2 separate regions of the Homo sapiens genome follow, and region 2 is linked to region 1. A link means that fine-mapping ties the variant in region 1 to the expression of a gene that starts in the linked region. Tissue or cell type: tibial artery. Region 1 holds a variant in brackets; the other region holds the start of a gene. All regions are shown on one strand. Distances are between the middles of the regions.

What was found. PIP is the estimated chance that this variant, and not a neighbour inherited with it, causes the effect.
Region 2: COL7A1 starts here. The variant in region 1 is fine-mapped to the expression of COL7A1 in tibial artery (GTEx, PIP above 0.99).

The regions. Positions count from the first base shown.
Region 1 is chr3:48,421,076-48,423,831 of GRCh38, forward strand. PLXNB1 (plexin B1) reads right to left here. Exons shown (of 38, transcript NM_001130082.3): 3 at 2,430-2,756; 4 at 1,690-1,872; 5 at 1,256-1,384; 6 at 1,030-1,130; 7 at 599-731; 8 at 153-309. Among named protein-coding and RNA genes, the nearest start is that of PLXNB1, 7.6 kb to the right of the region's middle. The variant T/G (reference allele first, on the strand shown) is at 1,315.
Region 2 is chr3:48,594,369-48,596,996 of GRCh38, forward strand. It overlaps COL7A1 (collagen type VII alpha 1 chain), which reads right to left and starts at 961. Exons shown (of 119, transcript NM_000094.4): 1 at 900-961; 2 at 707-792; 3 at 1-180. The coding sequence starts at 791.

The DNA.
Region 1 (2,756 bases):
GCACAGAATGGAGGCTTCAGGTGGTTGGGGAGTGGGAGGACCCAGAGAAAGGCATCCATTCATGGCTCTTTGCCTGGATTCACACTTTAACCCCACCGCATCCCCTGAAGCAGGGGCTGGCCCCCACCAGGCTGGCCCATTCTCTCACCCACCGGCTCCTCTCGGCAGCACTGGGGCCTCACTAGGGTCTGGGGAGGGGCACATCACACCAGAACCAGTCAGCAGGGCAGGACTCTGATGTTCCCCAAAGTGGCAGGAATATGACTCCCCTGGCCACAGGGGTGGCAGGTCTGGCACTGATAGGAAAACCTGCCAAGAGAGCCAGGGACACACTGTTGGGGCTAGTGGGCAGCAGACCAGGGCTCACATTTATGGGACACCCAATGTGGGCAGGCACCAGCAATCAACAGCCCTCAGGCCTCCCCAAACACCCTCTGGCCTGAGTTAGAAATAGATGGGGAAACTGAGCTCCTAAAAGAAGTGACTTGTGTGAGGCCATGTGGTATCTGGCATGTCCGACATCAGGATCCAAGATCTCTACCCAGACCTTGATGCCCAGAGCCCTCCCCACCAGGGCCCTGCCTATCTGATCATTCACCTCCCTCGTCTCCTCTCGGCTGATGTTGGCAGGACTCATGGCTGCCACTTGCAGACAGCCCAGCTCAGGCTGGAAGCTCCATAGCCACTGCTCTGGGCCCTGGCCCCTCGAGCACTCAGAACGGCGACTGCACCTGGGCGAGATGACCAGTGTCTATCTGTGACCCTCATGGGCCACTGGGAGTTCATAGGGTAGGGACTCCTACAATCTGGAGGACCTGGGCAGGGCCCTAGAGTGGGCATGATAGAGGCTCCTGTGTCTGCCCTGGCAGGGCACTGATGCCCAGTGCAGAGGATGGGGGTGAGGAATTGGGGTGTCTGGGGATCAGGGGTTGAGAGTCATGGTCTAAGGGTCAGGAATTCTGGACAGGACAATTATGCAGGAGCATTGTGGGCTTGAGGCTGGGGCTGGGATGGGGTCAGAAATCTGACCTGCCAAGGAGCACGCACCACCCACAGTATGGGTCCCTGTGAGCAAGGCAAGATGCACAGTCCAGGTGCTGAGCACAGGAAGCCACAGGAACCTTCAGAAGCTGAGACAGCAAAGAGGACCTGAGGCCAGCAATCCAAACACCAGTGGCTCACCCACAAGTGGGTCCCTGGCCCCACCCAGAGGCCCCTCCCAGCAGCCATGCCCTGGCTTGTGCCTGGCACTCACTGTGCTCTGGGTCATGACATACAGGTGCTCAAAGGTCCCATCAAAGGTGAGGTCTCTGC[T/G]CACTGCAGACCCCTGCTGGATGCTCTGTGTGGAGTATGGGTGGCCATCGCTCCCTGGGCCCAAGTAGACCTGGGATCAGAGACCACAGGGTCTGGGACCCAAGTCCATGGCCAGAGGCCCAAAGCCCTCCCCTCCTCCACCCAATCGAAGTAATTTACAAATAGAATTTCCTCCTAGGCAGTCACAGGTCATACCAACTGGCCTAGCGGGGATGGAGGAAAGTCACAGGTAAACACCACCCAGTCCTGGGGAGAGGAGCTCAGGTCATCTCTCCTGGCCCAGGGGTCACAGGGATAGCTTAAACCAGGCTGGGTCCCTAGCAATCTGTTCCCTCCAGACTCTGGGGCAGGGGCCAGTACTTCCTGTGGGCTCACCCTGTGCAGCTGCCCTTGACTATCACCCAGGAAAGCGATGGTGTGTCCATCTTCCATGGTGACTGCCACAGCTGTTAGCTGAATCCCTGGCCACTCCAGAATTGGTGTGGCTTCCAGCGGGACCCGGCTGGCCATGGGGCTGGGCGTGTGGTCTGAGCCACAGGGATAAGCATCCAGGGTGTCCTATAGGCAGCAAGAAGCATCAGGAAGGCCCTCCCTGGATAACCTCCTCGGCCGCATCGTCCCTGGACAACCTCATTCCCTCCCCCAGCCGCTCTGGTAGCTCTCCCTGTACAACTGTGTTTTCTCTGCTGGCCCTCCTGGGACAATCTCATCCCCGCCCCCAGTCTCTCTTCCCTTTTTTATCCATCCTGAGGCTACAGCTCATCAATCCCGACCTCACCTTCCTCTCCTGCTCAAGAACCAAAGGTCTCATTCCATTCTAGGTCCCTGTCCCTACCCAAGAACCCCCAAACACCCTCCCAATCCACCGACACAAGTGCCACCCCTCCAGCATCCTGGTCCAAGCCCATCCAGACACTGCTGCCACCCGCATGCCAGATTTGTGGTAAGGTACCCTTCCACTGCCCAGGCAACATAGGAAGCACTTAATATTTGCTGATCTGATCATCCTCGTGCTACCACCAGCTGCCCTCGGACTCTCTGGGCAGCTCCTTGGCTGCAAATGCTTGGCCAGTGGCCTCAGAGAGGCGGAAAAGTGGGGCAATACTGGAACTCACCACTGGCAGCTGTGCACAGTCAGAATTGACATCATACTCGATGTAGGCCACCTCGGTCCCATCCTCAGCACGACCCTCCCGGGTGTAGCAGGCATCTCGCGTGCGATTAGCAAGCCGGTCCACCTCATCCAGGGGGAAGGCACAGAGGGCAGAGGCTCCAGATGCCCCAGCAGCCGCCGATGGGGGCCGGCCCACAGTGGGGGGTGCAGCCGAGGAGAAAGCTGCAAAGAGCACCTCCCCATGCGCCACCTCCCTGGACGTGGCCACAGCTGCAGCCTGGATCAGCCCGTAGCGGCCACCTTCGCAGGCCAGAGGCAACTCCACATA
Region 2 (2,628 bases), 170 kb after region 1:
GTGGGTCATCGCTGTACTGCACTGTGGCAAAGCGCACACCCTGTGCACTGGCTGCTCCAGAGAAAGGCAGCACCAGCCCTTCGAGAAAGCTGCGGACCTCGCGGAAATTGCTGCGGCCAATGGATGAGGAGCCATCCAGTAAGAACACAATGTCAGCGGCGTAAAGGCGCGTGCAGGTCACTGGGGCGGGCAGGAGAGATCAGGGCCTCTTCTGGGAGGCCAACCACCCGCCTACCCGCACGGTGGCCTCACTGGGACTTGGGATGGTGGGGAGAGTAGGCCTCATCTTATGCAAACCAGGGCCGAATCGGCCTGAGCCTGAGGGCCTTGGAGGGAGTTGAGCTCGGTGGGTCCCAGAGCAGACTCCCGCGGAGGGTTGGGGGTGTGCGGGGGAGGGAGAGTCGCCAGCACGGGTGTGGACTTGGGACTGAGGTCAGCCTCTAGGGGCCGGCGTGGATTGGCATAAGGCAGGGGACCCCGCACGCATCCAGGGAGCCAGAATTTGGGTAGGAACAGGATAGGAGGCGGTTTAGGGAACCCAGCACCGATCGCGGAGGGTTCGGGGAGTCCCAGAATTAGGAGGAATCCGCGGGGCGTCGTGGAGTTGGCTGGGTTGTGGGCGGGGGGTGTTGGGGATGAAGGCCGAGTGGAGCGGAGGGTGGCACGGTGCAGTGCCCCGGGCCGGGTCCTCCCTTGCGGTGCCCACCTCTCTCCCTGTGCTGGGCTCGCACTCGGGGCGCCTCTGCCAGGATCCCGGCGCAGAGCGCGGCCACCAGAAGCCGCAGCGTCATCCTAGGCAGTAAAAGCCGTCAGCTAGGACCCCCGCCTCTGTCCCTTGCTCCCCCGTGGCCTTGGCAGGTCCGAGCCCAGCGCCCCTCCAGCCCGAGTCCTGGTCTTGCCTGCGCGTCCGCCCGCTCCCGCCGCCGCCGCTGCAGTCTCTCGGGCAGAGCAGAGAAAAGTCCCTGATCTCGGGGGGCGGAGCGGCAGGCGGGAACCCAGGCACCCGCCCTCACCCATATCCCTGAGAGGTCGCCGCCCCCCCCACCCCTCCCCCAGACAAACGATATGACGCACTTAACTATAAACCCCCCGACCCCCCGTGGCTTCTGGGAATTTCCCAGAAGGTTCTGCATGGGCAGATGCTGAGGGAGTACCCCTAACTCCATCTAAGGTCACAGGTCTTGGCTGCTTTAGGTCAATCACAGTGACCAGGCTGAGGAGTGGACAGGTTCCTGCAGAGCCACAAGGCAGCAGCGCCGTGGGGGGTGGGGCTGCAGTTGGGGATGACTCACCCCCAATCCAGTGGGGGTGCCCAGACAAGCCCTCAGGCCATGGGTCCCGCCGGCCACTCCTGTGATTCAGCCATCTGTCTGGTGGGCCTCCTGGGCCCCACCCGGATCTCCTTGACAGGCAAGAAGCCCTGGCAAATGAGTGACTCTGGGCCGGTCTTAGGGAAACCAAGGTCCCCTTGGCCTGGATCCAAGTAACTCACCCCCTCTTTGTAGGGGATAAGCCGGAAGGAGGAGAGAACCTGTGTCATGCTTATGCATACATCCCAGTGTCCCACATCCCCTACCATGTCACAGGCAGATGCAATCCAGCTGTGCCTGCAGGGAGGGGGCCGCCCATCTGTGGAGGGCGGGACCACCCACAGTGACAGCTCATCTCTCAGGAATCGAGCCCTCCATGCCCCAGGCCAGGTCCCCCTACCTACATGTCCTCACCCACAGGCATCCTCTCCTTCCATCTACTTTTCTTGTAGGTCCCTGCCACCCATCTCCCCTACCAGGCCGAGGTCCCCTTGGGCCCCTTCCTCCTTTCCTCACTGCCCTCATGGTACCTGTAGCTTCCAGCTTCATAACTGCCCCCTACCTTACTCCTGTCCCCTTACCCAGGCTGACTTCACACCCTCCCCCAGCTTCGCTTCTGAGGCTGTGGACAGTCCTCCAACACACACCACGCCAGGGCCACTGTCCGAAGGAGGTGGGGCTCTGTATATGCATATCTCTCCATTAGATGGGTGACACTAAGGCAGAGAGGCACTGCTAAGAAGGGCAGGCCCCCATCTGGGTCCTGCTCCCCCTTTTTTTCCTGCTAATCCTGAATAACTCTGGGCAGCCCAGAAAGCACATCTATACTCACCAAGGCTGCTGGGCCCCTTCTAATATGCCCGGCCCCACAGCCTCCCCTGGGATCCACAGGGAGATATGGGGACAGCACTGGCTGGACTCCTCCACAGCCCGAGGACTCTGGTGTGGCCAGAGCTGGAGGCAGTGAAGACCATCCATGCTGCCTGCTTTCCTATTGCCCAAGGAAGGCTGGGGCTCTATCCCTTATTACTGACCCCCCAAACTATCCTGGGGCATAGTGCTATGACCTTATTCCAAGGTCAGGGTCTCCTCAGCCATGTCCCAGGACCCCCCATCCCTGCAAGGTGTGCTCCAGGTGGGGGGCTGCAGAGAACCAGGTATGTTATCACACAGGCAGCCCCTTCCCCCTAAGACTGTCACCTCCTCCCGTGCAGCCAGGGCGGGCAAGAGCAGGCCAGTGGCATGGACAGTACGGTACAGACATATGTGCACACGTGGGCCAGTCTTAGGGGAGACAGGAGGCCCAGCTGGGAGGGTG